Linked DNA regions of Homo sapiens. The protein of the gene in region 3 interacts with the protein of the main gene of each other region in a pairwise test. Each region holds a gene or a part of one and is shown on either strand. Other genes may lie near its edges.

Region 1 (3,668 bases), on a different chromosome or scaffold from region 3:
ATAGGACTGCAAACTAGAAAGAAGGGCATCAGGCCAGGCGCAGTGGCTCATAACTGTAATCCAGTGCTTTGGGAGGCCGAGGCGGGCAGATCACCTGAGGTCAGGAGTTCAAGACTAGTCTGGCCAACGTGGTGAAACCTGGTCTCTAACTAAAAATACAAAAATTAGCTGGCGTGGTGGCACACACCTGTAATCCCAGCTACTCGGGAGACTGAGGCAAGAGAATCGCTTGAACCCAGGGGGCAGAGGTTGCAGGGTTGCAGTGAGCTGAGATCATGCCACTGCACTCAAGCCTGGGCAACAGAGTGAGACTCGGAAGAAAGAGAGAAAGAGAGACACAGAGAGAGAGAGAGAGAGAAAAGGGAAAGGAAGGGAAGGGGAAGGGAAGGGAAGGGGAAGGGAAGGGAAGGGGAAGGGAAGGGGAGGGGAGGGGAGGGAAGGGAAGGGAGAAGGAAGGAAGAGAGAGAGAGAAAGAAAGAAGGGCATGCAGAGACAGTAGGGTGCTCCCTCAAGACCGAATAATCAGCCAGGGAGATAATGACAGACAAAATCAGGGGCCGAGATAATGACAGATAAAATCAGGGGCCCTGCACTCCCAACAGCTTATAAAGTAAAATGGAAATAAAACCATGTGTCTGAAGGAAGCATAGGGTACCATGACAACATTTCAAAGGAAGATTGATCATGTCGAGGTAGTCAGATTAGGCAGTGACTCTGAGCCGGGGCTGTGCCCAATAATATAAAGCCTTTTAAGCCGTAGTATGGTTTTGCTTAGGTTTTTGGATGATAATGAGTCTGGGTGGGGTTTTTAGGTTTTTGCTCTTTATCCTAAAAACAAAGAGAAGCGTCTGAAGACTTACGCAGGTGAATGGCATCATCAGATTGAACTGCCACAAACTACTCAGGCTACAGTGTGTCTGAGGGACTGGAGAGTGGCAGTGAGGAGACCGCCAGGAGGAGGCAGAACACAGCAGTGGAGACAGACGCAGGCTGATGATTCAGGATGCATCCATGAAGTAACACTCACAAGACTTACTAGCGGACAGGTTTCATGCGGAGTAGTGAGGAAGAGAGACAGGTAACAAGGAAGACTCCTGGGTCTCTAGTCTGGGTGTTGGTGCTCTGGGGAGACTGAGGCAGGCCAGTGTAAGACAGGGGCAGGGAACAGATAGCATGAGGCAGATATGACAACAGGAAGTAAAAATCAGCTTGCACCGAGAAAGCAAAAGTCTGTCCTGACTTCTGTCAGGCTGGAATAACAAACACAGATAAAGTCAGGTGCCAAGTTAACAGAAAATATCTCTCAAAGACAATGCAACTGTAAAGTGTCATAATGACCTCTTCTTTGAGTGACTGCTAACTTCTTATTCACTGAGAAGCCTTATTCTGTAAAATCCCAGACTCGCACAAATTTTGTTCTTTGAAATTATACAAGTAAGAAGATCCCACTCTTGCCTGCAGGATCTAAGTCACTGTGACACAGAAAAGAACCCTATTTCCAGCTACTGCAGAGCTTCAAGTAAGGGATTTCTAGAACAATGTTCCACGTCTATTTGAACGTTGTAGTTTTCAAGGAAACGGGACCTGGGTCCGCTTCGCAGTCAGACTTAATATTGGTCCCTTTAGACACAGTTCTATTTTGCTTCATTTATGCTTCACCTAATACCACTCTGTCTCCAAGTCCTACAACAACTCTATCCTCTTTTTTGTTGACATGCCCCACAGTTTCTCGGTGTTCTGGTATGGTCTTCCTCACTGCAAAGAGCCATAAACCTCACTCTGTCAGACTGTGGGTCTGTTCCTGGCGACCTTAGACTGATTAGGCTAGGGCAGACATTTAGAATTTGAAATAATCATGAAACAAGCAGGAAGAAATGCCAAGTCGGAGTCAGGCACAAGGCCGTGAGCTTGGAGAGTTCTGGGCTAGAGAGTAAATCCAGCAGCCACTGGCATCAAGACGGTAACTGAAGCTGTGAGTGTGCATGAGACTGCCTAGGGAGAAGCCATGGGGTGAGGCAATGAGCGGGGCCTAGGCCTGAGTCTCAAGCCCTATTGGAAGGCTGCAAAGCAGAGAAGGATAAATTTCAGCAAAGGGGAATAAGCAGGAATTGCCAGAGAGACTATGGGGAAAAAGGTGACTCTATAGCCTGGGAAAGGCCGGGACTATGAGATAAGATCTCCCAAAGGCAGACTGTGATCAAGTGACCACAGATTTGTTTGTGGCCCTCACTCGGTTTGATTTTGGCAGCGGGACTGATCACTAAAGACACTCATGTTAACTAACTCATGAGACCCTGATGTATTTTTTAGAATGCCAGTTTATTAATTTACAGTGAGAATATAACCAACCAGCAGGCTGCCATACGCTGCTACTGGTGTATGCCTATTTACCTTCCTTTCCTGAAGATAAATGCACAAGGAATGACTAATCTCAGAAAGTTGCTGGATGAGCATGAAATCAAAACTAGAGAAATTAGAAGTCAATGACCTGGCATTCTGGCAACCAATGACACGCCATGTATCTGGCAGAGTCCCAGTGGGAAAGAGAAATCAACCCAGATGTTGAGACTTTTCTGAAGGGACCACTTACAGAGGGGAGAGCAGAGATAACAGAACCACCAAGGGACAGCGAGGTACCCAGGGACTAGCAACAGCCCTACAGCCACAGGAGCAGGGGCAGTCCAGCAAGAGCTAGGACTACGGAAGAGGCCTCTAGACAGGAGTCTCTGTTGTGGAGGGATGCAGCTACTGCCACAAAACAGCAGCAAAGCAGGGAGGGAGCAGGAAGAAACACCCCAACCTCTCTCTCCACCCAGCAATGCCTTCCATTGGTGAGCCCCACTGGCAGCCAGCAAGGGAACCAGGAGAGCCCCATCTGTAGGGATCTACCTCCCAGAGCACACCACAGGGCAGAGAAGACTGGATCCAAGGACTTCGGAGAGAATATAAACAGGACAAGGTACGGTGGATGAGAACTGTCCCTTCTAACTGGATGTGGCTGGCCCACTGACCAGATACGTTTGCACATGCCAGAAACTCATATTCTCGGGGTGAGCTATCTTCTTGTCTGGACAAGTGCTACAGCTACCTGGGCCCCCTGGATGCACCTTTTCTAGAGGGCACACAGGGAGGGATAACAACCAAATGTCATGCAGTAAATTGGCCTTTACCGTCAAAGGCTGATTTAATCATGATTTGGCCTCAATCAAGCAAGTGCTGAGACAATCTCAGAGTATGTCCAGGAACTTCAATAGGCTCCTAAACTGGTATTCAACATAACAGCTCAGCTCAAATCTCAAAAGTCTGAATGGACACCAGAAAGCCTAAACTTCAATCAGTTCTAGATACTGGCTCACCCATCCACCTAAAGATAAGTGAACACACTTCCAGCTATCTCTACTGACAAGTAAACTCCATGCAAGGTTTCCATTTGGCAAGATCCTTAACTTACACAGTAAGTACTTAATTTTCAGAATAGAGCTTTTCAGTTATCAAAAGTATAAAATTCTTCTGCCAATGAAGAGAGAGAGAAAGAGAAGCTGTTAATAGATGCTCAGAAAACTGGCAACCAACTTATACCAACTTACATATGTCCAAGTCACTACACTGAGGAAACCTCCCTTTCTTAGGTCATCAGACTCTCCCAAATATCATCACAAGGACTGTAA
Region 2 (3,668 bases), on a different chromosome or scaffold from region 3:
TGAGAAATAAACCATCTTTAGGTCATTGACAAACTTAGTGCAAAAGGACACAGTCCCCAATATGTAGAAAAACCAAACAGAAAAAGAATGAGATTAAATTATAATCGACAGTCTAAATATATAAAATAATATACACATGAAACAAGAACAGAATGCTAGGGAGGGGAAGAACAAATAGCCCTTCAATTTTCTAAAATTTATTTTTTGTAGAGATGGGATCTTGCTATGGTGCCCAGACTGATCTTTAACTCCTGGCTTCAAGCAATCCTCCCACCTTGGACTCCTGAAGTGCTGGGATTATAGGTGTGAGTCACTGTGCCTGGCCCCCCAGTTTTAAATGAAAAATTCATCAGAAGAGGTGGCAAAAAGTCAAGGAAAGCTTCCATACATGACACAAACAGGAGAAAAGATGGAAACTAGGTGGGGAGGGGGGAGGGACAGCAGCCAGAAGCTCAGTGCAGGAGGTCTGATAATAGGAGTTCCAGACAAAGAGGGCAGAGGGAACAAGAGTAAATTATCAAAGAAATAACTCAAGAAAGTTTCCCAGAGTGGAGGAAAAGTTTCCTGAATGAAAAGATACACACACGCAGAGGCACATCACCGTAAAATTTAGGAATGCCGGGGAAAAACGATCTTCGTCTCTACAGAAGAAAAAACAGGTCACGTAGAAAGGAATAAAGAACCTAAGTAGTAGTAAGATTTTTTTGTTGTTGTTGTTAGCTTTGAGCTCAGAACTAGCAAGACCTTTTTTTTTGAGATGGAGTTTCACTCTTATTCCCCTGGCTGCAGTGCAATTATGCCATCTTGGCTCACTGCAACCTCCACCTCCCGGGTTCAAGCAATTATCCTGCCTCAGCCTCCCAAGTAGCTGGGACTATGGGCACCCACCAACACGCCCAGCTAATTTTTGTATTTTTAGTAGAGACGGGGTTTCACCATGTTCGCCAGGCTGGTCTTGAACTCCTGACCTCAGGTGATCCACCCGCCTCGGCCTCCCAAAGTGCTGGGATTACAGGCATGAGCCACCGTGCCCAGCCAAAAGACTTTTTAATAACAACTCTAGACAAATATGTATTTAAAAACCAAGAATATTTTAGACATACATCAACATACTCTGTTAAAACAAAGGAGTAAGTTGAGAAAAAAACAGGAAATCCACAAACTAGCATTATAGGGCAGCCCCAGGACAAGAGCTGTGTGGCGGGCCCCAGGGAGATTCTCCCCTGGCCACGCATTGCGGGGTCACCTGGGTGGGAAGGAGGGAGGGGAGAAGAGTCTGGTGCTTGTGTTATGTTAAGAGCTTTCTGGAAGACCCTCCAGAGGTTTCCCTTTATGTCTCCTTGGCTAGACCCTTGTTACAGGGACACCCTAAGCTCATGGGAAGCTGGGAAGATGTAGTTTTTTAATTAGTACACTGATGCTTTGAGTGAAATGGGAGGTTCTGTTAGGAGAAGGGGGAATAGATATTGGGTGACAGGGTCGGCAACATTTGGCCTATATGAGTATGTTCCAGAGACAGCACACGCATGTGTGGTGTTTTGTTTTTTTTTTTTTTGGAGACAGAATCTTGCCCTGTTGCCCAGGCTGGAGTGCAGTGGTGCGATCTTGGCTCATTGCAACCTCCGCCTCCTGGGTTCAAGTGATTCTCCTGCTTCAGCCTCCCAAGTAGCTGGGATTACAGGCACCCACCACCATGCCAGCAAATTTTTGTATTTTTAGTAGAGACGGGGTTTCGCCACGTTGCCCAGGCTGGTCTCAAACTCCTGACCTCAAGCTATCCACTCGCCTCAGCCTCCCAAAGTGCTGGGATTACAGGCATGAGCCACTGCGTCCAGCCATGTTTGTTGAATGAATAAAATTAAAAAGGAAACAGAAAACAGCTCAGCATAACCTACACAAGAAGCAAAATCACAACAGGAGGCTTGATGAGGCTGCAATTGCCTCAGGCTAGAATCGCCAAATGAGCCTCCACTGTCAGAGACATGAAATGATGATGGCAAAGGGGTGGAGAAATCGGTTGGTGGAGGACCTAATAAGCACTGGGATGAGAATTTTTAAAAGTTAATAAACTGAATTGTTTTAGAGCAGTGAGATGGAAATTCTAAACACTTCTAGTTCAAGTACATATACAGAGGCAAATGTTTTTCACAACCTGAACACACCCATGTACCCAAGAACCACGTCAAAACACAGAACATTCCCAGGTGCCTCCCAATCCCGTGAGTCCTCTCTCCAGCCCTTATCCCCTCGAGAGTCCCCTCTTCAGCCCTTATCCCCCCGTTAGTCCCCTCTCCAGTACTTATCCCTTTGGCATGAGGATTTTTTTTTTTTTTGAGATGGGAGTTTTTTTGCCTTTCTTGCCCAGGCTGGAATGCAACGGCACAATCTCGGCTCACTGCAACCTCAACCTCCACCTCCTGGGTTCAAGTGATTCTCTTGCCTCAGCCTCCCAAGTAGCTGGGATTACAGGCACCCACCACCACGCCCGGCTAATTTTGTATTTTTAGTAGAGACGGGGTTTCACCATGTTGGCCAGGCTGGTCTCAAACTCCTGACCTCAGGTGATCCACCTGCCTTGGCCTGGCATGAGGATTTTTTTAAATGAGATTTTTCTTAATGGCTGCTCATAGAAAGTAGGGAGAAAGACAAAAATCTGTGTTTTTTGCCGGGCGCGGTAGCTCACACCTGTAATCCCAGCACTTTGGGAGGCCGAGGTGGGCAGATCACGAGGTCAGGACATTGAGACCATCCTGGCTAACACGGTGAAACTCTGTCTCTACTAAAAATACAAAAAAATTAGCCAGGTGAAGTGGCGGGTGCCTGTAGTCCCAGCTACTTGGAAGGCTGAGGCAGGAGAATGGCGTGAACCCAGGAGGCGGAGCTTGCAGTGAGCTGAGATTGCGCCACTGCACTCCAGCCTGGGCGACAGAGCGACACTCTTGTCTCAAAAACAAAACAAAACAAAAATCACAACAAAACAAAATCTGTGTTTTTTAAACAAGGAAGTTTTCAGGATCTAAACTTACACTTAACTTTCAAAGCATTCTCACCCTTTTATATCTCACTTTGGCATCATAGAAACGATTCTGGCGGAAAAGGTAGTTGCCAAACTCCCGTTCCGTAGCTGCCACTTTCAGGACCTTCTGAAGTGGAAATTGGTCTTGCTGCTCCTGAGGACCAGAGACAGGAATATTCAGCAAGGAAACCAAAAGCAGTAATGCCACAATGGAAGTGTTAGTACACGTGAGCCCAGGAGTTCGAGACCAGCCTGGGCAACATAGTGAGAACATGTCTCCATTTAAAAAAATAGTAATTGAAAGAAAGGAAGTGTTACTACAGCTGTGAGCTCTTCTTTTTCAGATCATGCACTTCTGTTTACAGCCTTCTGTGTTGGAGTCACCTCTGAATCTGACAGAAGCCACACCAGTGTTATAACCTGTCCCATTTTACACCCTAGAGCCAGAAGGAAGTCTACGTCTTCAGTCTTCCCCTGATGTTCTCTGAGGAAGCAGTGTCCCATGGAATCAAAAACTGACGGAACTTGCCAAGCACAGAAGTCAGTGCTCAAAACCACTATTTGGCCACCAAGCACTGAACAGGTCTTGGTTTGCTCAGGGCCCTGGCAGTCTTTATGGTCATGATGCTCTGCCCTGGCCATCTTCAGAGTC
Region 3 (4,240 bases):
GGAGGCCTCGGGGGCTGAGTCCTGAGCTGAGGATGGGTGGCCACCTTGGCTCCAGCTTCAGCAAACACCAGCCCCATGGGCATGTGCTTCCGCCGCGGGTCCCACCCCTCCTGCTGTGTGGGAGGCCCTGGGATTTGCCTCCGTGGCCGCAAAGCCCCAGCGGTGACAGGAAGGAGTGACCCAGACCCCAAGGGGAGGAGCCCTCGCCTCGATACCTCGGGGACCTGGAATGGCCCCGGGGAGTAGGTTCCCCAGGGTTGGGGGACCGTGGCTGGCTGAAGGCATCATGGCAGGCTGGTAGGTGTCACCCCGCGGCAGGAGCCTCCGGGTACTGGGACTCTCGGGCCCGGGGCGCATGGCGCTGGCCACCACCTCTGCGGCCTTCTGGATGGTGGAGAGGAAGGCTTCGCCTGCCGAGCCTGTACCCGAGGAGAGGGAGATGGGACGGCCGCCCAGTGCGGCCCCCACCCGCGTTCTCTGGGAGCAGGGTGCCCGCATCGGCTCCCTGCTCAAGCTTGGAGAGGTCGGGGTACATGCTGCAGGTAGGGAGGCCTCCTGGTGGGCCCCAGGCCCTCTGGAAGCTCCCAGTGGACTCCGCTTTGGCATTCCCACTCCCAGTGGGCCTGGACACCAAAGCTCACTGCAGAGTTATGCCTCCGTCCCTCTGTCCTCTGGGGGTGAAGGTGTCCTAAGGGGCTTGGGCTTGGCCTTGGCTCAGGGAGGGTGTGTCCAGGGCTCGGGGAGGGGCCGGCCTTTCCTGTGTGAGTTCCCTGTAGAAGCTGCCCCGACACCAAAGTGTCGGCAGGAGCCCCAGGCTGTGCGCAGGACGGCGTGACACAGCCTAACGGTGAGCAGCTACACACCGCCCAGGGCCCGGCAGCAGGGCACAGCTGGGCTGGGGGCTGGGTCCCAGCCGCAGGCAGTGGTGCCACCTGTGGCTCTCCTGGCGCTGGTGAGCAGTTGTCCACTGGTACTGCCCCACCTCATAACAGCTCCACACGGGACTGCCTGAGTCACCTGCACCACAGCCAGGGGCACAGCCCTCGGCCCCTCTCAGAGTGGGACTCACCCCTGCCACGGGGCCCAGCCCTGACTTCTTGCTCGGCCTGGTTTCTCTCATCTGTCCATAAAGCAGCCCTGGCCACACCTGCCCCACCCCCACGTCAGCAGCCAGAGAGAGACAGTGGGGACAGCCCCAGGAAGGGTTGAGGCCATGTAGGGGAGGGGACGGGGGACAGCAGCTACTAGATGGGGCGGCATGGTCCGGCCCCCACCACCTCCTCATCCCCACACCCTGAGATGCCAGAGCCCATGCAGGCCCTCCCCACTCACCCGTGCGGCCGTGTTCCTTGCTGTAGCCGAAACCCTGGAGGGTGCTGTGCGGCCTGGCCTGGGAGCCCATGCCTGCAGAGGGTCCTCCGTTAGCAGCAAGCCGGCCCCCACCCTCGGCCCTGCCCACGGATGGCACAGACACCCAGGACACTCAAGGAGGCAGAAACCAGGTGCCAGAGCTGGACACGGTCCCCTCAGTCACCTACCTGTGGCAGGCGGGGTCCCCAGAGGCTGGGAGGGAGCCAGCGGCAACACGGTGTCCGAGAACAGGGTGCTCCCCAAGTCCTACAGGGGGAGGCGAAGGCCCTCAGTGTCCTCACACCAGGGCCTGCTGTACTCACCCTGCCACCCATATCAGCTCCGTTCTGTCCCCCGGACACTTCTCCTGAGCCACTCAGCTGGACACAGGCTCTGTGTCCACCAGCAAGGAGCAGAGGCAGGGGTCCCGGATGGGAGAACTGCAAACCCCCCAGCTGACATCCTGGCCCCAATCCCACCCCTCTACAGGAGGAGGGGCACCCCGCAGAGCGACACTGCTCCTGGGCTCACCTGCGCGGCCGCGCGAACCTTCTGGTACAAGCTGTTCCCGTGCAGAGGATCTGGGGGCCCTGCAAAAGCTGCAGAACAGAAAAGGCAAGTCGGGGGCAGGGCTGAGCCTGGCACCGCTGCTCCCTGTGGAGCACGGTGCCCTGGGCCCACTCCAGGGTGGCAAGTTCCTGCCACCAAGGCCCTTCTGTCACAGCCAATGGGATGCCCTCCTCCAGGACCCTGCAGAGGCCACACCTGAGCAGACCCTCAGCTCCCCCTCACCCATGCCCCACAGAGGCGAGACTCTCTCCACAGCAACCACCTCGTCTCCCCCAGGGTCGGCAACCCCTGGTGCCTGAGCGGGTGTGGCCTCCCCGAAGCCCACTCTCCCTGCCCCAGGTGCACCAGGGACCCCTCAGAGGCTTCCGGGGCCTGGAGGGAGAAACCAGCGTTCTTATCACAGCCTGAAAGCTCCACCTAGCCCCACCCAACCCCAGTCTCAGCCGCCTCGAGCTCCCCTGCTCTGAGAGTTCCTGTCATGATGAACTGGGGCTTCTTTCCTTAAATCTTCCGGCCCCAGGGCCCCCCAAGCCTACACCTGGGGCCGCGGCATCCTTTCAGGGCTCAGGCTGAGAGCTGTGCCTCTGAGAACCCCTCGAGAGCCTCTGTCACAGGCGAATCCACTCACGCCCCTCGGCCGTCTACCTCCACCCTGGCAGGCTGGTCCCGTGATTCGGAGACGATGCTCCTGGCTGTCCCTGGGCCCAGGGCTGGCGGCCACAAGCTGAGTCAATGGCTGGATGAACTGACACCCTGAGGCTGCCATCTTCCCTGCAGGAGCCCAGGGCACCCACCTGCCACCCCACGCTGCCCCTGCTCTGTGACAGAGCAGGAGCATCACCATCTTGGACAAGCCCCTCATTCTAAAGTTCACCTTAACCAAAAACTGCCTAAATCCATAGGGCATCAGCCTAATGGCTAAGGTCAGCACGACCATGAACCACAAATAACATCTCCAACCAGAAACATTCCAAACTCCTCCCCAACCAGAGACATGCTAGCCCCAAGATAACCCTTCTCCAGCCGGGAAGATGCCAGCTTCGAGAAAACCCACCTCCAGGCTGAAAAGATGCCTGCCCCAAGATAACCTTCCCTCCTTCCAACCCTGCCATAAACTTCTCCACACACATAAACATTCCGAGCTTCTGATAAGCCCTCTCATCCTAAAACCAACATTCAGTCTGTAAGATAAAGTGCTCCTGACCGCAATCGGCTGGGGGTGCCTCTCAGGTTTTAACTAAAGAAAATCTGTCTGTAACTGCCAGCTGCGTTTTCTTTCCTCTTTCTGACGCTCTGCGCGCGTGGGGCAGGCCATCCTCACTGCACACCCACCACCTGGAGCAGGGCGCCCCGTCTCTCACGTGTGGCATCTGGCACCCACTTTCCTCACAGGGCCTGTCCTGACACCTCCCACAGCCTGTGTGTCACCCAGGGCCAGTGTCCAGGCACGGCAGGCAACAGCCATCATCCATAGCTGCCTCTGCACAGGAGAGACTCTGGTGCCGACAAGAACCCAGGGTCTGAAGAAGAGCCTTTCCCATCCTCAGGTCCTGCTGTGCCCCATCCCCCTACCTGCTGCAGCCCCCACCCCAGGGCGTGTCCCCGAGACCACTGAGGCCACGACGTACATGCACCAACCACAGCCACGGGAGTGGCCTGGAGCCCGGGGCCCTCTGGCCCGCTGAATGGTGAGGATAAATGGCTGGTGCTGCCTTGGCCCCAAAGCTGTGAGGAGCTCTGTGAGGATGGCGAGAGCACCCCCGCACTGCCGTCCCCTCAGGGGCATCTACTGCCTAAGTCATGTGTCACAACTGTCTATGGCGGCCCAGGGCACTGGCCCCTGCGGAACACCTAGAGCTGCATGCCCACTTGCCATAAAGTGGGACAACACTGGTTTCGACACCGGTTTTGGGGTGAGCCCAGTGGATGGTACACCCTGAGGTCTCCACAAGCAAGCAGTGGCACGAGACAGACTCAGTCTCCCTCCCCAGAATTCCCCACTCAGGGGCTGGGGTGGGGTCCAGACATGGTGCGCCCAGTGACCACCTGGAGCCAGGCCTCCCTCCACCCCATGGAAGATCTCAGGCCAAGCCCCCACAAGTCCTCATTAGGCAGAGGCACATGGGACTGCCCCCAAGCCTGCGGGGACAGCTCCCCCAGACCCATCTTCTGCCTGGACAGACCGACTGGCCGGGGCCCCGCCTCTCCTGCCTCCCAGCTCCGCCCTCCCATGGCCTCACTCTGTCTTGGGCTCCGAGGAGCAGCCCCAGAAGGGGAACCCACAGCCTGGGAAGGATGTGTGAACAGGCACTGAGTCTGC
Region 4 (4,385 bases), on a different chromosome or scaffold from region 3:
TGACACTAATAATGCAAGGTCCAGCCCCAGCATGCATCCGGACCTAGAACTGAACAGCAAAACCTAGGCAAGCTCCCCACCTTCTAGATCAGTTCCCAAACTTTCGGGAAACTGTTGAAAGCATAGGTGTAATAGAGATTCTAGAGGCCCACCTTCAAAGGATCTTCTTCAGGGGGTCTCCAGTGAGACCCAGAACTCTACACTTATAGGTGACACTCCCAGGTAATTCTAGAGAGCCTGGAACCTACAAGGCCTCTACCCTGATCTCCCACCTGCTCCCCTATGAAAGCTTGTCAATGAGACAGAAGCAGCACCAGCAGCCCCCGGGGGAGCCCGACATTGGAATACCTGGCTTCTCACAATCCGCTGGGCCTCCCACTACAGCCTCAAGCCAGCATCACTGGCTTTCCTTCTTCCCAGCAGGGAACAGCAGGCACAGAGTCAGAAGTGGGAAATGCAGCTGGACGCCTGCACCACTGCCTGGTCTCTGCCCCTTCTCTCCTCCCCTTTCCCAGCAACACCCCTGTGTCCCCAAGGTCACCAGAATCAGGTGGAAACTGGGTTACATCACGGGACTGGGGAGGCAGCCTTTGTTGGGCCTGCTCTGATAACATTCAGGTGCTGGCCTTGGCCACTGTGGAGGAGGGGCAGAAACAGAGGGACTGGGTACACCGTCCACACCTCATGACCCCAACAGGAGCAGATAGGTGCTGGGAAACAGTTCTTTCTGAATCTCAAACTCTTGCTCTTACTCTCCTTTTTTTGGGCGGGGGGGCTGGGGGGTGGGGAAAGACAGCTTGTTGCTCTGTTGCCCAGGCTGGAGTGCAGTGGCGTGGTCATAGCTCACTGTAGCCTCCAACTCCTAGGCTCAAGCCATCCTCCTACCTCAGCTGCCTGAGTAGCTGGGACTACAGGTGCATGCCACCATGCCAAGCTAATATTTAAAAAATTTTTTTAGATACCGGGTCTTGCTTTGTTGCCCAGGCTGGTCTTCAACTTCTGGGCTCAAGCAATCCTCCCACCTTGGCCTCCCAAAGTGCTGGGATTACAGGCGTGAGCCTTACTGCACCCAGCCTTCCCTCTCTCTCTCTTTTTTTCTAATACAAACTGGCAGATGATGATTCAATCTCTCTATTTTTTTTCATTTTATTGTTTTATTTATTTTAGTAGAGACAGGGGTCTCGCTTTGTTGCCTGGGCTGGTTTTGAACTCCCGGCCTCAAGCAATCCTCCTACCTCAGCCTCCCAAAGTGCTGGGATTATAGGTGTGAGCCACCAAGCCTGGCCTCTTTTTTTTTTTTTTTTAAGATATTCAAAGGTATCCTTATTTACTTAGATTTTTTAAATCAAGGTATAACATATACAAGTGTGCAAATCTTAACCACACAGCTTGATAAACACTTGATGTATATACACCCACTCTCAAGAACAAGATGTAGAGTGATTCCAGAAAGCTCCCTCCTGCCTCCTCCCAGTCATAACTCCTAACAAGGACAGCCACTGTCCTTATTACCATGTTGTCATGTGGACTGTTTTTGAATTTCACATAAACAGCATCATATAGAATGTACTCTTTTGTGTCTGGTTACTTTCACTCAATAATATTGAATTGTGAGTTTTTTTTTTAATGTGAAGTCTTTCAACGTTTAGAAATTCAATGACACTCTGTTATACAGGTTTTGTTTGTTTTCTGAGACAGAGTTTTGCTCTTGTTACCCAGGCTGGAGTGCAGTGGCGCAATCTGGCTCATTGCAACCTCCGCCTCCCGGGTTCAAGTGATTCTCCTGCCTCAGCCTCCCAAGTAGCTGGGGTTACAGGCGCCTGCCACCATGCCCGGCTAATTCTTTGTAATTTTAGTAGAGATGGGGTTTCATCATGTGGGGCAGGCTGGTCTCAAACTCCTGACCTGGAGCGATCCACCGGCTTTGGCCTCCCAAAGTGCTGGGATTACAGGTGTGAGCCACCGCGCCTGTCCTGTTATACAGTTAATGAATATTATGGTCATAATATACTGCTGTGGTTTGAATGTATCCTCCTAATTTCATGTGTTGGAAACTTAACCCCCAATGGGGCAGTATTGAAAGTTGGCTGTAGCTTACGCCTATAATCCCAGCACTTTGGGAGGCCAAGACTGGAGGATCACTTGAAGCCAGGAGTTCAAGACCAGCCTAGCAACAAAGCTACAAACCATCTTTCCAGCAAATTAAAAACTAAAAAATAAATTAGCTGGGCCTGGTGGTGCAGTTCTGTAATCCCAGCTACTCGGGAGGCTGAGGCAAGAGGATCTCTTGAGCCCAGGGAGTGGCGGCTGCAGTGAGCTGAGATCCATCACTGAACTCCAGCCTGGGCTCAGAACGAGCCTCTGTCAATCAATCAATCAATCAATCAATCAGTGTCTTGTCTGGGCCTAAATTCTCTAGAACACAATGGAAGAGAGAAAGTGAAAGAAGGTGGAAGTAACCCACAGCTGGGAGCCCTGAACCCTGCTGGTGGCAGGTGGCTCTCGTGTCCTCACCAGGTTGCCCTGCAATCACATGCTGCATCCTTTTTCCTGAACCTGCCCCACGTGCCCCACCACGCAGCCACTCCGAGGGCTCCTTCAAGGGCGGCAGCCCTGTCACTCACGTGTTCCAAAAGTGCTTCCCCTGTGCCCTGATGGCCTCGCCATGTGTCTCATCATGCCCCACGCGCTCCCACTGTGCGCCCCACCTCGCACCCGTGCCCCATCATGCTCTGCGTGCTCGTTAGGTGCCCCATCATTTCCCGCTCGCTCTCGTTACGTACCCAGCCTCCGGCCCCTGTAAGTGCCCCATCGTGCTCTCTGTCGCTCCAGTTAGATGCCCCATCCTGCCCCGCGAGCTCCAATTACGTGCCCCACCTAACCCCCCACGTCCGTGCCTCATCATGACCCGCACGCTATGGTTACATGCCCCGCCTCGCGCTACCGCGCGTGCCCCATCATGCTCTGCGCGCTCCCATTACGTGCCGCCACCTCGCGCCCCTGCACGTACCCAACGTGCCCTGCGTGGTCCCGTTACGTGTCCCATCATGTTTCGTGCGCTCCCATTACGGATCATACCTCGCACCTCACCGCGTGGCCTCTGTAGTTCCAGAGCTCGCGAGGGCCAGGGCCGTTGGCGGCGGTTGGAACGAAACGATGAGTGCCTCCTCGTGGCCCCAGAATGGAATGCCGCCGTCGGTAGGGGTCTGCCGGGCATAAAGGGGCCTTCGGAACCCCACCAGAGTCACAGCCAGGGAGGGCAGCGGGGCGCACCAGGCCGAAGGCTCACGCCACAGGGAGGGCAGCTAGGACATGGGGGGAAGCGCGTTAAACCAGGGAGTCCTGGAAGGGGACGACGCCCCCGGCCAGGTGAGGGCCCAGACGTTTCGGGGGCGTAGACGCTGAGGGGTGGCCGGGTGGGTCTGCGGCTCTGAGGCCTGGCTTTCATTCTCCATCAGTCCCTGTACGAGCGGTTAAGTCAGAGGATGCTGGACATCTCGGGGGACCGGGGCGTGCTGAAGGACGTCATCCGAGAAGGAGCTGGAGACCTAGTGGCGCCTGATGCTTCGGTGCTAGGTACGCCCTGGGGCGGTTTGTCCTCAGGATCCATGTCATCGCACTCTGTTGGGAAGAGAGAGGCCTCATTTTCAAAAAGCACTTAATGGGGTTGGAAATGCTTTGTTTGAAGTGGATTTTTGTTTTTTGTTTTTGAAACGGGGTCTTGCTCAGTTGCCCAGGCTGGAGTGCAGTGGTGCGATCATAGCTCACTGCAGCCTCCACCTCCTGGGCTCGTGATTCTCCTGCCTCAGCCTCCCAAATAAGGGATTTACAGGCGCGATCCACCATGCCCGGCTAATTTTTAATATTTTTGTAGATATGGGGGACTCTATGTTGCCCAGGCTGGTCTCAGACTCCTGGACCCAAGTGAGCCTCCCACCTCAGCCTCCCCAGTAGCTGGGATTACAAGCATGAGCCGCTGCTTCCGGCCTGAATTAGTTTTTTTAAGACGAAAGCTAGGGACTCCTATGTCCCCTTTGTGTGATGCTTCCGCAAAGCTCTTGAACCTCTGAGCCAAAGGGCCGGCACCCAAAATGCAGAGAGAAGATTTATTCCTGTACCTCGGGGTGTCGGGCAGCTTAAGCTCATCTGTTCACATTGTTTCTGTGTGATCATGAGAGACTCGATATTATGGTGGCGTGGGTGTTTTTGGTCCATTTTCCTTACATTCTTTCTTCTATCCTAGTGAAATACTCGGGATACCTGGAACACATGGACAGACCCTTCGATTCTAATTACTTTAGGAAAACTCCTCGGCTAATGAAACTTGGAGAGGGTAGGTTCAGAGTGGGAGCTGGAGAAGAAGGAATTGTTTAGGGGCTAGATGA

The links.
Region 1: the proteins of TEPSIN (region 3) and HSF2BP interact in binary tests that used the Homo sapiens proteins (3 or more experiments, as listed by UniProt).
Region 2: the proteins of TEPSIN (region 3) and FKBP6 interact in binary tests that used the Homo sapiens proteins (3 or more experiments, as listed by UniProt).
Region 4: the proteins of TEPSIN (region 3) and TRIM50 interact in binary tests that used the Homo sapiens proteins (3 or more experiments, as listed by UniProt).

What each region holds. Positions count from the first base shown.
Region 1 is NC_000021.9:43,652,823-43,656,490, forward strand, and holds part of HSF2BP (heat shock factor 2-binding protein), read right to left. Parts: intron 1-3,668. UniProt on the Homo sapiens protein: Meiotic recombination factor component of recombination bridges involved in meiotic double-strand break repair.
Region 2 is NC_000007.14:73,331,159-73,334,826, reverse strand, and holds part of FKBP6 (inactive peptidyl-prolyl cis-trans isomerase FKBP6), read right to left. Parts: intron 3,171-3,668; coding exon 3,051-3,170; intron 1-3,050. UniProt on the Homo sapiens protein: Has an essential role in spermatogenesis. It is required to repress transposable elements and prevent their mobilization, which is essential for the germline integrity.
Region 3 is NC_000017.11:81,232,100-81,236,339, forward strand, and holds part of TEPSIN (AP-4 complex accessory subunit tepsin), read right to left. Parts: intron 3,185-4,240; exon of another isoform or gene 1,950-3,184; coding exon 1,882-1,949; exon of another isoform or gene 1,840-1,881; intron 1,618-1,839; coding exon 1,539-1,617; intron 1,503-1,538; exon of another isoform or gene 1,405-1,502; coding exon 1,333-1,404; intron 420-1,332; coding exon 216-419; intron 111-215; exon of another isoform or gene 1-110. UniProt on the Homo sapiens protein: Associates with the adapter-like complex 4 (AP-4) and may therefore play a role in vesicular trafficking of proteins at the trans-Golgi network.
Region 4 is NC_000007.14:73,325,117-73,329,501, forward strand, and holds the start of TRIM50 (E3 ubiquitin-protein ligase TRIM50), read right to left. Parts: upstream 2,967-4,385; 5' UTR 2,784-2,966; intron 460-2,783; exon of another isoform or gene 349-459; intron 1-348. Other genes in the region: inactive peptidyl-prolyl cis-trans isomerase FKBP6, read left to right, coding at 3,313-3,369, 3,459-3,576, 4,244-4,333. UniProt on the Homo sapiens protein: E3 ubiquitin-protein ligase that ubiquitinates Beclin-1/BECN1 in a 'Lys-63'-dependent manner enhancing its binding to ULK1. In turn, promotes starvation-induced autophagy activation.